Regions from separate parts of the Homo sapiens genome. Here region 2 is linked to region 1. The links come from fine-mapping of genetic effects on gene expression. Tissue or cell type: whole blood. Region 1 holds a variant in brackets; the other region holds the start of a gene. All regions are shown on one strand. Distances are between the middles of the regions.

Region 1 (8,261 bases):
GAGTCTGCCGAGCATCTGCAGCTGGCAGTGTGGAGCCAGGCCTGCACTTTGATAGCGTTTTGGGCACTGAATAGCAGCTCTAGGATTTGAGTCTGAAGGGTCTTGTGAACAGTGTGGGATGGCGGCAGCAGCAGTTCTAGCCAATGCTGGACACGCCCAGCCTAGCAGGGTTGGCAGATAAGTCCTGGTACATCCATGCTGGGGCTCAGCACAGCTGTGAGAGACCACAGAGCTGAGTGTCTCAAGCAGAAAGGAACTGGTCATAAACGAAATGAATCAATGCAGGTTACTAAGCAGTGTCAAGTAGCATGTTTTATGACAACAACTACAACTCCCTGCCCGCCACTAGGAGAAAAGACGCTGGGGGCAGACCACATGTCAGCAGTGGGTGTCGCTTAGTAATATATTGTGGGTCATTGTTATTTTCTTCTTTTTGTTTACTTGTATTTCCTAAATTTTTCTACAATGAACTTGTATTAATAAGAAAAAACCATAAAATTTACTGTTTTTAAAAAGCTGCTCTAAGTAATCAGACAGTCAAAAGAGCAGGAATCAGCTCTCCAGGAGGCTCTTTGGTCTGGGGCCGAGGGGATGAGGGTGGGTCCTGAAGACGTCTGAGTCCCTTGTTACAGGAGGGTGTTCATTGTGTCCTCCTCACAGCTGGGAGAACAGCTGAAGCAGCTGGTGCCTGCAAGCGGCCTCACAGTCATGGATCTGGAAGCTGAGGGCACGTGTTTGCGGTTCAGCCCTTTGATGACCGCAGCAGGTAAACCAGGCTTGGTGGACATCCCTTGCTTTTGTTCTGGGGCTGCTGGGTAGATTAGCTTGCCCTTATGATACTCCATTCTCCTAGAGTTATTAGCAGCTCTTTTTGGAGGGGCATTTTCTTTTCTTTTGGGCTAAATTTAGGTAGATTAGCATTCCCATGTAACTTACCAGAATCAGAATGAGAATTCAGAAGTCACCTGAATTGGCCGGGCATGGTGGCTCACACCTGTAATCCCAGCACCTTGGGAGGCCAAGGCAGGCAGATCATCTGAGGTCAGGAGTTCGAGACCAGCCTGGCCAACATAGTGAAATCCCGCCCCTACTAAGAATACAAAAAATTAGCCAGGCATGGTGGTACACACCTGCAGTCCCAGCTACTTGGGAGGCTGAGGCAGGAGAATCACTTGAACCTGGGAGGCCGAGGTTGCAGTGAGCTGAGATTACACCACTGCACTCCAGCCTGGGGGACAGAGGAGACTCCATCTCAAAAAAAAAAAAAAAAAAAAAAAAAGTCATCACATGAATTCCTTTTTTGTTGTTGTTGAGACAGGGTCTTGCTCTGTCACCCAGGCTGGAGTGCAGTGGTGCGATCATGGCTCACTGCAGCCTTGACCTCCTGGGCTCAAGTGATCTTCCCACCTCAGCCCCCGAGGAGTTGGGACCACAGGCATGAGCCACCACACTGGACTAATTTTTGCATTTTTTGTAGAAATGGGGTTTTGCCACGTTGGCCAGGCTGGAATTCCTATATTTTGATGTCTTGTGACTCTCGATTTTCCACTACAAGGGTTCTCACTCCCCACTGCACATTAGAGTCATCCGGGAGCTTTACACACAACCAGTGGCCGCCCACCCCCAGAGATTCTAGAATGGAGCCTGGGGATCTGTGTTTTGGTTTTTATTTTTTTTTTAGAAACAGGGTCTCATTTGTCACCCTGGCTGGAATGCAGTGTCTTCACCATAGCTCATTGCAACCTCGACCTCCTGGGCTCAAGCAATCCCCTGCCTCAGCCTCCCAAGGAGCTGGGACTACAGGCGAGCACCACCACATCTATTTTTTTTTTTTTTTTTTTTTTTCCATAGAGACGTGGTCTCACTCTGTCACCCAGGCTGCTCTTGAACTCCTGGCCTTAAGTGATCCTCCTGGCTCAGATTCCCAAAGCACTGGCCACTATAAGGATTGCCTGGCCACAGCTCTAGATACTTAGTCTCTAAAACTGCAAAAGTAAGCCAGTGAGCCCTGAGGCCCGGCGCTGTCACCATCTCCCTGTCCTTCCTGTGTGGGGACAGCAGCCCACCACAGTACTTCCCTTTCTCTCAGTCATAGGAATGTACAGAATCTGTGGTTGCCTTTTTGTGCTGAACCTATGGTGTGATGTCTCCAGCCTGCCTGAAGTAGGCTTGCTGTGGGAAGAGTGATTTCTAACACTGGAGTATGTCATTGTGGGCCACATCTGTGAGAGAAACACTCCACACCTGCTACAGCCAGCTGTGTCTGTTTCTAACCCTAATTCTTCCATATCTGTGTTGAGGGCCTTTTTTTGTTTAAATCTCCATGGCTCCCGGTAACTGGAGTACCTCGAGCTTTTGACCTTCCCAGTAGTGGAAGAGGGAGCCCTGCCCTCTTGTCATTGGCCATCTCGTGAGCATTTCTCTGACATTGTGAACATCTTCAGTTTTAGGAACTCGGGGAGAGGATGTGGATCAGCTCGTAGCCTGCATAGAAAGCAAACTGCCAGTGCTGTGCTGTACGCTCCAGTTGCGTGAAGAGTTCAAGCAGGAAGTGGAAGCAACAGCAGGTCTCCTATATGTTGATGACCCTAACTGGTCTGGAATAGGGGTTGTCAGGTAAAGTCTTGGCCTGCCGCTTGATGTTGGAGACTTTTCTGTATAAAGAACATGAGTGGGTCATTTTCTGAACCACCTTAGAAATCCAAGATGAACGTGTAGTCACAATATGCTTAACGAAAATGCAACTCGGTTTTCTGGGCATTTACAAAAGCACAGTGCAAGCAGGCAATTTGGCCAGCGTGGCGCTCAGGGAGGGGAGTTGCTGAATGTTCTGTCTGTAGGTGCCGACTCTCAGCTACCTAGGAGAAGATGCCAACAGGTATATATCACTCACTGAGAATGGTTACTATCCAGGGCATATAGAGAATTGCAAATCAGTAAGAAAAAGAACCCAGCTCTCGGGGAGAGAACTGGGTGCAGTCCTATGGCTGCTTTCTCGCCTTCAGAGGTGAGGCAAACCTCTTTTTGTATTGCCCATGAGACTTCCAGACCTTGTATGGAACTAAAGACTTAGGCTTTCAGCTGGGCACGGTGGCTCATGCCTGTAATCCCAGCACTTTGGGAGGCCAACAGGAGCATAGATGACTTGAGGCCAGGAGCTTGAGTCCAGCCTGGACAACATGGCGAAACCCCATCTCTAGAAAAAATACAAAAATTAGCCAGAGGTGGTGGTGCACACCTGTAGTCCCAGCTACTCGGGAAGCTTAGATGGAAGGATCAACTGAGCCCAGGAGGTGGAGGTTGCAGTGAGCCAAGATCATGCCACTGCACCCCAGCCTGGGCCACCAAGTGAGACCCT[G/C]CTTTAAAAAAAAAAAAAAAAGGCTTTCCTGTGACTTTCTCTTTACTCCTGGCACACTTCCAGAAAGTTTGTGGTCTGGAGACACTCGCAGTAGCTCTTTTGCCCACTGGTTCCACTGCATTGTCTTGCTAATATTTAGAGGTTTCTAATCCTGTATCAGAAGAGACATTTGATCTTTTAAGCTGAAATGCTGTGGTTTGATGTTGTTTTAGGTATGAACATGCTAATGATGATAAGAGCAGTTTGAAATCAGATCCCGAAGGGGAAAACATCCATGCTGGACTCCTGAAGAAGTTAAATGAACTGGAATCTGACCTAACCTTTAAAATAGGTAACTGCTTACTTTGTAAGTCAGCTGTGGGGTTTGGAAGGACACTTGGTAACCGGCTTTGAAGACGACGGCTCATCCCTTAGCGGGCTAGCGCCTCTCGGGCTGGGTTCCAGGCGAAGATGCGGTTCTGAGACCTCCCTCCCCTTCTGCAGCCTTGCCAGGCCTTTCTCTCCGCCCTTAGAATCTCCATGGAGGAGACCCCTTTGTGTGTGGTCAGGACCCTGAACAGGAGAGTAGGTCCACGTCTCACCCATGACAGAGGACTGAGAAACTCAAGTTTGTCTCGTTACCTTTGCAGGCCCTGAGTATAAGAGCATGAAGAGCTGCCTTTATGTCGGCATGGCGAGCGACAACGTCGATGCTGCTGAGCTCGTGGAGACCATTGCGGCCACAGCCCGGGAGATAGAGGAGAACTCGAGGGTCCGTAGCACCCATCAGTGTTCATTCCTCTTCTGAGTTTTGTCCCACCAAACAGCAGGGGCCACGAGGAAAGCAGCTGCCCTTGGGATGTCTGTTCGTTGTCTCTCAAAGTCTGTCAATGTTTCCTGTAAGCTGGGCCTTGTGCCAGGTGTCAGAGATGCCAAGTAGGTTTGACACAGCCCATGCCCCAGTGATCTCACAAGCTCAGGGGGAAAGATCCACATAGCCACGCTGTGTAGTAACCCTGCCTTAGAGAAGAGGGCGGGTAGCTGGACACTCAGGCAGACACATTCACCCCTGCCACCAAGGTCAGGGAGGACTTCTGCTCTGGAGCTGTGTCCTGAGGGTGAATGAAATGGGCTGTTGTATGTGTGGTTCCCCCTACACCCCTTCCCTATAGCACTTCCCACCAGGAATAGACCTACTGCTGTGGGTCCCTTAGCATGGAGGACCAGGATACAAGGCTGATAAGGTATCCTCCAAACAGATGATTACTTCCCTAAAAATCACTCAAAAGGAGAGAAGAGGGACCAAGGTAAGACTGCTCTGAAAGGAGAGAGACACGAGCCATTGGACATGCGGCCGAGAAGCCAGCTTCATTCCTTTCTGGGTGGACTCCTTAAGGTTTCTTTCCAGCCTGACTTTATGACTTCTCTGTTTTCAAGAATACGTAGCAAATGAGGCTGGTCACCAAGGTGTGTCTGCCTAGGCCTCTATGAGCATGTTATCTGCTTGTCTTTGAGTTTCTGTTCGTTTTACGCCGGCTTTTCAATGCAGGATTTCATTGACCTGCTTTTGAAAAATTCCCTCAGTGCTGTGTTACTAGCTCTTCTGGGCCCCAGGTGAGAACCTTAAACAAGTAATGTCTTTCTTGGTCTTGCCACAGCTTCTGGAAAACATGACAGAAGTGGTTCGGAAAGGCATTCAGGAAGCTCAAGTGGAGCTGCAGAAGGCAAGTGAAGAACGGCTTCTGGAAGAGGTGAGGCCCCCGATGGGCAGCAGGCTGGGGGAGCCGCCGTGAGGCCAGGTGGCCCTGAACTCTGGTCCTGTCTTGCAGGGGGTGTTGCGGCAGATCCCTGTAGTGGGCTCCGTGCTGAATTGGTTTTCTCCGGTCCAGGCTTTACAGAAGGGAAGAACTTTTAACTTGACAGCAGGTAGGACGGCATAGCCTCTTCCCAGGTCTTGCTGACCTTGGGAGGTTTCACCAAATGCCCTTGGGTCCCAACACTTCCCACTGAGAATCCCGCCCTGGTTCCCGTTCTTCATCACTGGGTGTGGGCCGGACATCTGAGGAGACAAGTTCTGGTGTGCCCTGTCCTCCTCCCCACCGCACCCTGGCGGCTGAAACAGCAAGGAAGCAGCTACCCACTCTCCACAGCTGTCACCACCGCAAGGCCATGAGGACACGCCCACTCAGCCGTGCAGACTCTCAGGGTGCTGTGTCTTGGGCATTTTGGTTCAGGGTTAATACTTCTTGTCTTCATGTGTGTTCTGCCCCAGCAGAGGACAGCTTTTGCAAGTGGCAATGCAGAGACTGAAGCATGGAGTGCTGGCACGGTTTATTTTGAACCAGGCAGCCAGCAAGCGTTTCAGCCGCTGGAATGTGGGGAGGGTGTTAACAGTCCGTGACTCCTTTCCTGTTCTACCAAGGAAATAATTTCCTACACTCGAGCCCCTTCCTTCATTCTTTCCCAGGAAACGATGACTCCATTGTCATGAAAGCAAAAGATAATCTGATTTCTAATCTGCCAAGCCTTAGCCTTCAGCAAAAAGGCACCCACTTCTTGTGGCTACAGTACGTTTCCCTGTTGGGCCTGGCTCCCTGGGTGTGCTTACGCCATACTGCTGGCGGATGCTGGCGGTACTGGCCCTGTGAGGTGGCTTTCTCTAGCTCACGGCACATTCATAAGTGCCCTTCTCTCCACCAGTCTGTGGCAGGCTCAGTGGCTGGAAGGAGGTTATTGGGGAGCAAGGCTGTGTGAGGGCAGGTGGTGTCTTCAAGGGCAGCCTGTGCCTGTAGCTTCTACCCAGCCCTCTCCTCTCCCGCAGGCTCTCTGGAGTCCACAGAACCCATATATGTCTACAAAGCACAAGGTGCAGGAGTCACGCTGCCTCCAACGCCCTCGGGCAGTCGCACCAAGCAGAGGCTTCCAGGTAAGTGACGCCTCTGCACCGAGTTCAGGTAACAGGTTTCCCCTGTTGACTGTTACTTGCGTTTGTTTTCTGGGTTCTTGAACTCCAGAGGTCTATTTCTCTTAAGACCAACTACTACCATCTCTTTAACCATCTTGGTAGCCGTGGGATTCAGCCTTGAAGAAATCCCACGGTAGTGCGCTAAGGGGAAGTTGGGGTCTTGAAAGATGACATTGTCACTGTGGTGTTTACCCTCCTGGGCGTTTCCTAATGAAGATGACCTTAGAGTTCCCCGGCCTGGGGAGCATGTTGGTGTCAAGCTAGCAGCTCTCGGTTTTCTCATCTCCTAAAACACCTCAGAGCCAGTAAAGGTTTCTGCTGAAGCTGTGTTGTGAAATAAAGCAATTATCTGTTGCAGAGACAGCCTGTGTTGCAGAAGTATCCTCACTGAGTTTCAGCGCAGTCTGTCTGCCCTTTCTGTAGGCCAGAAGCCTTTTAAAAGGTCCCTGCGAGGTTCAGATGCTTTGAGTGAGACCAGCTCAGTCAGTCACATTGAAGACTTAGAAAAGGTGGAGCGCCTATCCAGTGGGCCGGAGCAGATCACCCTCGAGGCCAGCAGCACTGAGGGACACCCAGGGGCTCCCAGCCCTCAGCACACCGACCAGACCGAGGCCTTCCAGAAAGGGGTCCCACACCCAGAAGATGACCACTCACAGGTAGAAGGACCGGAGAGCTTAAGATGAGACTCATTGTGTGGTTTGAGACTGTACTGAGTATTGTTTCAGGGAAGATGAAGTTCTATTGGAAATGTGAACTGTGCCACATACTAATATAAATTACTGTTGTTTGTGCTTCACTGGGATTTTGGCACAAATATGTGCCTGAAAGGTAGGCTTTCTAGGAGGGGAGTCAGCTTGTCTAACTTCATGTACATGTAGAACCACGTTTGCTGTCCTACTACGACTTTTCCCTAAGTTACCATAAACACATTTTATTCACAAAAAACACTTCGAATTTCAAGTGTCTACCAGTAGCACCCTTGCTCTTTCTAAACATAAGCCTAAGTATATGAGGTTGCCCGTGGCAACTTTTTGGTAAAACAGCTTTTCATTAGCACTCTCCAGGTTCTCTGCAACACTTCACAGAGGCGAGACTGGCTGTATCCTTTGCTGTCGGTCTTTAGTACGATCAAGTTGCAATATACAGTGGGACTGCTAGACTTGAAGGAGAGCAGTGATTGTGGGATTGTAAATAAGAGCATCAGAAGCCCTCCCCAGCTACTGCTCTTCGTGGAGACTTAGTAAGGACTGTGTCTACTTGAGCTGTGGCAAGGCTGCTGTCTGGGACTGTCCTCTGCCACAAGGCCATTTCTCCCATTATATACCGTTTGTAAAGAGAAACTGTAAAGTCTCCTCCTGACCATATATTTTTAAATACTGGCAAAGCTTTTAAAATTGGCACACAAGTACAGACTGTGCTCATTTCTGTTTAGTATCTGAAAACCTGATAGATGCTACCCTTAAGAGCTTGCTCTTCCGTGTGCTACGTAGCACCCACCTGGTTAAAATCTGAAAACAAGTACCCCTTTGACCTGTCTCCCACTGAAGCTTCTACTGCCCTGGCAGCTCGCCTGGGCCCAACTCAGAAACAGGAGCCAGCAGAGCACTCTCTCACGCTGATCCAGCCGGGCACCCTGCTTAAGTCAGTAGAAGCTCGCTGGCACTGCCCGTTCCTACTTTTCCGAAGTACTGCGTCACTTTGTCGTAAGTAATGGCCCCTGTGCCTTCTTAATCCAGCAGTCAAGCTTTTGGGAGACCTGAAAATGGGAAAATTCACACTGGGTTTCTGGACTGTAGTATTGGAAGCCTTAGTTATAGTATATTAAGCCTATAATTATACTCTGATTTGATGGGATTTTTGACATTTACACTTGTCAAAATGCAGGGGGTTTTTTTTGGTGCAGATGATTAAACAGTCTTCCCTATTTGGTGCAATGAAGTATAGCAGATAAAATGGGGG
Region 2 (8,000 bases), 58 kb before region 1:
GTCGAAGCTACTCCGGGAGGCTGAGGCAGCAGAATCACTTGAACCGGGGAGGCAGAGGTTGCAGTGAGCCAAGACTGCGCCGTTACACTTCAGCCTGGACAACAGAGTGAGACTCGTCTGGAAAAAGAAAAAGAAAGAAAAAGACAGGTCTGTTAGCAGCACATAAAGCCATATGTCAGTAGAGATTAAACCTCCCCACAACTGATGGCTTCATGCTCCAAACTGTACAATATTCTGCTTATCTCTCTTCACTAGTCCATAGAATGTTGCATTATAATGTATCAGTTTTCCTATCTGTGCATCCACAAGCCAAATGGTTTCAACTTTTTTTTTTTTTTTTCGGGGATGGGGGAATCACAGACTTGAGTATATAATGAAGACAATGGATGTTTTCCCCAGAAAAATGCACTCACTCACACACAAAATGTTGAGTATAGTTTCAGAGACCTCCATCTGCATCCCAAAGTAAAAACTTCTACCCAAAATAGTGTTTTTCTTCAGGGCAGAGAGCTTGTCTTTGTTTTGTGTGTGTGTGTGTGTGTGTGTGTGTGTGTGTGTGTGTGTGTGTGTGTAGACGGAGTCTTGCTCTTGTCGTCCAGGCTGGAATGCAGTGGTGCAATCTTGGCTCACTGCAACCTCCGCCTCCCAGGTTGAAGCGATTCTGCTGCCTCAGCCTCCCGAGTAGCTGGGATTACAGGCGCACACCACCACACCCACTAATTTTTCTATTTTTAGTACAGACGAGGGTTTCACCATGTTGGCCACGCTGTTCTCCAACTCCTGACCTCAGGTGATCCGCCCACCTCGGCCTCTCAAAGTGCTGGGATTACAGGCATGAGCCACCGCGCCCAGCCTTTTTTAAATTTTTAAATTTTTTATTATATTTTGTTTTTGAGACAGAGTCTCGCTTTGTCGCCCAGGCTGGAGTGCAGTGGTGCGATCTCTGCTCACTGCAAGCTCCGCCTCCCGGGTTCACGCCATTCTCCTGCCTCAGCCTCCAGAATAGCTGGGACTACAGGCGCCCGCCACCATGCCCGGCTAATTTCTTTTTGTATTTTTGGTAGACACGGGGTTTCACCGTGTTAGCCAGGATGGTCTCGATCTCCTGACCTCGTGATCCGCCCGCCTCGGCCTCCCAAAGTGCTGGGATTACAGGCGTGAGCCACCGCGCCCGGCCCAGCCTCTTATTTGTATTTTTATTGTTTTTTGAGATGGAGTCTCGTCTTATTGCCCAGGCTGGAGCGCAGTGGCACAATCTCGGCTCACTGCAACCTCTGCCCCCGGGGTTCAAGTGATTCCCCTGCCTCAGCCTCCCAGGTAGCTGGGATTACAGGTGTTTGCCACCACGCCCAGCTAATTTTTTGTATTTTTAGTAGAGACGGAGTTTCACTCTGTTGGCCAGGCTGCTCTTGAACCAGCCTCTTATTCTTTTACATACTATTTCCAGCACAACTGTCCAAGATGGCAGTCAATAAATGTTTGGCTAAATATAATAAATAATACGGTTGATTATTTCCACTTTTTCATGTTGGGTTTTCAAAGTCTACTTTTAAAACAGTAAAGTTAACTTTTCTCTCTAGTATTTGTTTTGTAGAATCTATTATACTTTGTAATGTAATCCACAGAAACTTGGAGGTGACTTTAGTAAAATTTACTAGTTTTGAATGATACCCATGCTGAGGTGCTCAGAGGTGAAATGTACTAACATATATCGATGGATGGATATATGGATGCATATGTGATTAAAGCAAATATAGGGAAAATTAACTGTAGAATCTAGGTAGTGGGTATATGGTTGTTCACTGTACAACTGTTTAAACTTTTCTACGTTTGAAAAATTTCATAACACGTTGGAAAAGTGACTTGTTTTGCTCAAGCAGGGGTACATTCAATCTTCAATTCTTGAAAGACATAAATCTATCTTTCCTTCTGTTTGGAAAGCTCTTTAGAGAGTCAGAATAATCCCCACAGTACAGTCTAAACCAGCACACAAGGGTTTTTTGGTAGAAAATAATTTTATTAACATAACCAGGCAATTTACCAAATACAACGTAGATAGCTCAAAACATGGAGTTACTGCGCTGAAAATGTGACCCTGTTTACACAGATTTCGGGACGAAGAGTATAAAACAGGAGAGAAAAGGAGTAAGATTGTGGTTGTAGCGTCATCGCAGAGGTGAAGTGTTCCATTGATTGCCACTGTGGTAGTCTATATCAGTTTCCCACATTAAGGTGGGAGGAATCTACTAAGCAAATGTACGCCCTCCCCATTCGTTCGAAACACATTGCAGTAAAATTGCAAAAGTGGCCGGGCGTGGTAGCTCATGCCTGTAATCCCAGCACTTGGGGAAGCTGAGACGGGAAGATCGCCTGAGGCCAGGAGTTTGAAGCCAGCTTGGGTAACATAGTGAGACACCCCTACCTTCTCTATTAAAATGAGATTTTAATTTTTTTTCTCTTCAGTTCATCGGTTAACAAGATAAAAAAATTAATAAAAAATTAACTTTTTAAAACATTTAAAGTAAAGTAGGAGTGGAAGCAGTATGTGGACTCATGGGGCTTGGGTCTGAATCCTACCTAGATCGGCACTGCGAAATGGGGATAATGATCTCCTAGAGCTGCTGAAATAGGAAAATGGAAGAACAGCAGCTGATGTATTAATATTATCATTATTACTACTACCCATTACCTGACAAGTGATAATTGTGACATGAAAGAGGCTGGACCGGTTGTTACAACAATTTTTTCCGTCTAGAATTCGGCGGTAAGGTCTGAGACAACACCTCAGCTTAGATCAGTGCCTTCTCTGAACAGCGTTCACTAAGCAGCCCCCAACCCCAAAACCCCCAAGTCCCCGGGCGCCGAGGACGCTGCGAGTCCTGCGCATGCGCAAGGTTGCCCACTCGCTCACCGCCTCCTTGGCGAATGGCCTGTTCCATTCTCGAGGGATGCCGGCGGGAGGTGAGGCGGGAGACTTGGAAGCCTGGGCCCGGAAGTGAGGTGCGTCACTAGTATTTCCAGCCTTTCACTCCATGAATAGTACTTTGTGATTATTATACTTCTACCTTGATGATTGCAACAGGCTGCTGGAAAGAGTTTGGTGAACAATCCACCGGGCATCCTCCCCCCTTCACCTGCGCACGTTAGGGAGGGCCGGCGTGGCGCCCAGGTACGGAATCCCAGAGGGCTCCGCCCAGCGCTACGGGGCCCCGCCCCGCCGCCTCTCAACCATCAGGTTCGGCAGCCCGCGGCGCCGCCTGGCAGCTCCTCCTCTTCTCCGCCCCGCCGGCCGCGGGCGCGGGGGACGTCAGCGCTGCCAGCGTGGAAGGAGCTGCGGGGCGCGGGAGGAGGAAGTAGAGCCCGGGACCGCCAGGCCACCACCGGCCGCCTCAGCCATGGACGCGTCCCTGGAGAAGGTCCGTGCCGGGAGGGGGCGATGGGGACGGTGCTGCGGCCCGGGGCTCCCGCTTCCGAGGCAACTGTTTCCCAGTCGCGAGCTGCCATTGTGACCCGGACAGGGGGACGCGGGCTGACAGGCCCTGCCTGAGGAGGCCTCGCCGGGAGGGCGGCTGGGGCCCGGGCGCGTCACGGGGCCGGGTGTCTCTTGGGTCCCCGTGGGCCGAAGAGGCTGGGCGGGGTTCGGTGGGGGCCGCGACGGGCCCGGAGCCCAGGACTGGGACCGCGGGGCCGACCTTGGGCCCTGCCGAGGTTCCGCGAGTGGCCGGCCTGAGCTCGGCTGGCCCTTTCGGAGGACCGGGAGCTCTCCGTTGGCGGCCCCAGATGCTCCCGGAAAGAAGCCGCAGTTATTTCAGAGCCAGCTGCAAACCTGTAGGTTTTTCTTGGTCTCCGAGTTAGGAATGAAAATTGCCAAAGCAGTGGTTTTCCAACTTCAGCCTGAGTGGGAATCACCTGGGGCCTTTGGTAAAATGCGGAGGTTCAGTCCCGGGGTCAGAACCTCTGGGGGCGGGACCGGGAACTGCGTGTTTAACCGCCACCGCCCCGCTCCCACTCCGCCCCACGCAGGTGATTCTGATGCTGAGCCTGCGATCACCGGGCGAGAACCTCTGAGTTCCAGAAAGGGGTGGGTGTTGCGTAGATTGCGAATTGAGTTTTGGGGATCGCAGCTGCTCCACAACTTCCTGGCTCCCCCATTCCAGTGGCGAGGAGGGATCCCCGAGTCAACTCGAAATCCACTGGTAACAGAGCCTACCTCTGGTTTCCCCTTGGGGGAACGGCAGCGTGGTGTACCAGGCTGACTGCTCTACCATGTGAAACGGATTCTCATTGTCCCAGTGTTAGGGCTTGTAAATGGAAACCAGTTTGGGTTTCTTCACGGATTCCTGCTTTCGGTACCTGACATTCTGCCCTCCCTCAAAGCCCTTCTGTCTGTTCCAGCTTGGGAGTCTGCTTGTCCAATCCAGTGCATACCCGGTTTTTCATGCATGTGGCATTCAGGAGCAATGCTCGTGTTTTAAGACGGCTACATTTTAATTTTGAGCTGGTAGGAATAATATATTTTGTCTTTTTTCAAGGCAGCAGCTGCTGTAGATTTTGTTCACTTGTCACTGGAGAGTTGAAGGCAATAATTGTAAAGGTTGGGCCAGATGTCTTCATGTGCTCACAGTGGTATAGCCTACTCCTGGGTTGCTTAGCATAAATTGGGTGGAAGACAAGAAAAAGATAATATGGTTTTCTTGTGCCATCTCTGGGGTGAATGTTACGTGTTTTCCTGGCTGGGAATAAAGTCTTTCCGGTCGTCTGATTAGCAGGGTGTCTACCTTTTGGTACTTTGAGTTTGTCCAGATGAGTGGTTCTTAAAGCAGGGGGCAATTTATTTCCCCAGGAGACATTTGGCTATCTCTGGACATAGTTTTGATTGTCACAATGGGGGCAGGGAGGTGCTGCCGGTACCTAGTGGGTAGAGGCCAGGGACGCCTCTAAACATCCTACGTTGCACAGGACAGCCCCCCACGCTGGAGAATTCTCTGGCCCAAAATGTCAGCAGTGTTGAGGCTGAGAAATCCTGGTCAAGATCATGTTTATAACACCAGCAGTTGAGTACAAAACGATGCAAAGTGGTGTTATCAATTTCCTAAGAAGGTGGGTGGGCTTCATGTGATTGTAATTGGAATCCTGAAGAACTGGGGTGATCTTTCCTCCAGGAATAATTAGCCTTTATAGGAAAATCTGCAGGGTGGGTCAGAATCCTGCTTTAAATATTACTTTTCTGGCATTTGATCAGTAGGTTACAGTAGTTGCTCCCTAAGTGTTAATTGATGATAAAAGATCTTAAACTCTCTCAATGAGGATCGCAAGAGGGACTGAAATTCCAGTGTGTTTAATATTGGAGCATTCACAAAAATTGTAGTGATCTTTTAGGAATTCAGAACGTGTGGGCTGGAGGTTTCTGCCTTAGGTCAATGTGAAAATTCTGAGTGTAAGTTTTTCAGAACTATGGGACTTACTTTTTTTTTTTTTTTTTTTTTTTTTTTTGAGAGGGAGTCTCGGTCTCTTGCCCAGGCTGGAGTGCAGTGAGGCGATCTCGGATCCCTGCAACCTCCGCCTCCCGGATTCAAGTGATTCTCCTGCCTCAGCCTCCCGAGCAGCTGTGACTACAGGCGTGTGACACCACACCCGACTAATTTTTGTATTCCCAGTAGAGATGGGGTTTCACCACGTTGGTCAGGATGGTCTCAAACGCCTGACCTTGTGATCCTTCAGCCTCAGCCTCCCACGGTGCTGGGATTACAGGCGTAAGCCACTGCACCTGGCCGGGACTTAGATTTATATTCCCTGAAGTAATACAGGGCCTTAGATGGAATAAACGATTTATATTGGTGCTAATTGGGCAGAAAAGAAAAAGCATTGCTGTAATATGAATGTTGATGACTTTATGTTCTGAAAAATAGTCTGGGTCAAAGTGAAACATTTAATTGTGTTCATTATTCCTGTTTCTTTGAGGAATAGACTATCCTGCGTTAAATTCTACATTGTTAATATAAACTCAAGAGCTATGTGAGCAGTTGTAAATGATCCCATTTAAACTGATTGTTGCATAATTTATACTGATTACAGAAACCACAATGTTATTTGATGCTCACCCTCTAAAATTTAAAATAATATCTCTCACTTTAAAATGTATGTGAAAAAACAAAAACAAAATGTAGTATGCGATCATCATTTAGTAGAATCACTCAGTGATTTGGATTTGGTCCAAATATAGTTCTGTCCCTTGCTTTTTCTGTTATGTAAACGTGCAGACCTGTGATAACAGAGCCATTTTCTCGTCACGATTTGCTTTTCTTCCACAACAGTATCAGTTTTCTTGTATCTGAGATCAGTGATGTCCCAATAAATCAGATGGGTTAATTGAGGAGGCAAAGGAAATTCAAACTTAGGAGAGTAGGAGTAGGGGCTTTGCCCCTGCCCCCCACTGTATGTCCAAGGCATAAGGAACAAGGCCCTGTAGCAGAGTCTCACAGTGTGTACTTATGTTAATATTCAATAAGGAAAATGCCACAGGAAGTAATCACTATAATGATGAAGATTTTAAGTTATTAAACACACCTTCCAGTAAAAACCTGTTATATTATTATTATTTTTGAGACAGGATCTCTCTCTGTCACCCAGGCTGGAGAGCCGTGGTACAATCTCGGCTCACTGCAACGTCCGTCTCCAGGGCTCAAGTGATCCTCGCGCCTCAGCCTCCTGAGTAGCTGGGACTACAGGCACTCACCCCCACACTGAGCTAATTAAAACAATTTTTTTGTTCTCGAGACAAGGTCTCACTATATTGCCCAGGCTGGTCCCAACCTCCTGGGCTGAAGCCATCCTCTTGCCTTAGCCTCCCAAAGTGCTGGGATTATAAGCGTGAGCCACCGTGCCAGGCCAAAACCTGCTACTCTAAACTTGTAGAATAGCCCAGACCTTTTTCTGTTGGTTAAAAGATCTCATTCTTCCTGGGTATTATGTTTAGGCAAGGTATACTGCAGTTTGTTTGCATTTACTTTAATTCTGTCCTTGAGCAAACTTAAAGCAGTTTCTCAGCGTCAGCACTAGTGATATTTTGGGTCAGATAATTTGCTGTTATGGGGGCTGGCCTGTGCATGGCAGCATGCTTAGCAGTGTCCCAGACCTCTGCTCAGTAGATGCTAGTCGCACTCCCTACACCCAGTTGTAACAATAAGAAATGTCTCAAGATGGGGGCAGTTGTCCCCCAAGGGGTAGAGGGAATTGCCTGTCATTGAAAGTCCCTAATTTAGGGAATCTAGAGCTACAGTTCCGGTTTGGTCACCACTAGCCATATTTGGCAGTTTACATTGAGATTAAAATTAAACACAATTTAAAATTCATTTCCTCAGTCATGCTAGCCACATTTCAAGTGCTCAGCAGCCACATGTGGCTGATGTCTGCTACACTGGGCAGCACAGATGTGGAACATTTCCATCGCAAAGAAGGTTCCACTGGACAGTGCTAAGAGCTGGCAATTCGTGTTTTTTTTTTGAGATGGAGTCTCCCTCTGACGCCCAGGCTAGAGTGCAGTGGCACAGTCTCTGCTCACTGCAACCTCTGCTTTCCGGGTTCAAGCGATTCTCCTGCCTCAGCCTCTCAAGTAGCTGGGATTACAGGCACCCACCACCACACCTGGCTAATTTTTGTATTTTTAGTAGGGATGGGATTTCACCATATTGACCAGGCTGGTCTCAAGCTCCTGACCTCAAGTGATCCACCCGCCTCGGCCTCCCAAAGTGCTGGGGTTACAGGCATGAGCTACTGTGCCCAGCCAATTACTTGTTATATCTAATTCTCATCTCTGAAAGAGGCAACTTTGACCCTGTTTCTGACCTAAATCAGCACAACTCAGCCCATTTTTGGTTCTTGAACTCATCCTGAGCTAAGTGTTTCTTTCCTGCTATTTGGGACTGATTTTAGAAAATTCTTTGTCACCTTGCTGTTATGCTAGAGGTTTATAGCAGCATCAATGGAACATTCCTGATCAT

What was found. PIP is the estimated chance that this variant, and not a neighbour inherited with it, causes the effect.
Region 2: PDXDC1 starts here. The variant in region 1 is fine-mapped to the expression of PDXDC1 in whole blood (TOPMed, PIP above 0.99).

What each region holds. Positions count from the first base shown.
Region 1 is chr16:15,029,291-15,037,551 of GRCh38, forward strand. PDXDC1 (pyridoxal dependent decarboxylase domain containing 1) reads left to right here. Exons shown (of 23, transcript NM_015027.4): 16 at 661-766; 17 at 2,445-2,616; 18 at 3,571-3,689; 19 at 3,988-4,109; 20 at 4,996-5,088; 21 at 5,167-5,263; 22 at 6,159-6,263; 23 at 6,726-8,261. The coding sequence ends at 6,985. Among named protein-coding and RNA genes, the nearest start is that of NTAN1, 23 kb to the right of the region's middle. The variant G/C (reference allele first, on the strand shown) is at 3,359.
Region 2 is chr16:14,971,805-14,979,804 of GRCh38, forward strand. PDXDC1 (pyridoxal dependent decarboxylase domain containing 1) reads left to right here and starts at 3,222. Exons shown (of 23, transcript NM_015027.4): 1 at 3,222-3,416. The coding sequence starts at 3,396. RefSeq lists a silencer at 2,088-2,382 and an enhancer at 2,540-3,303.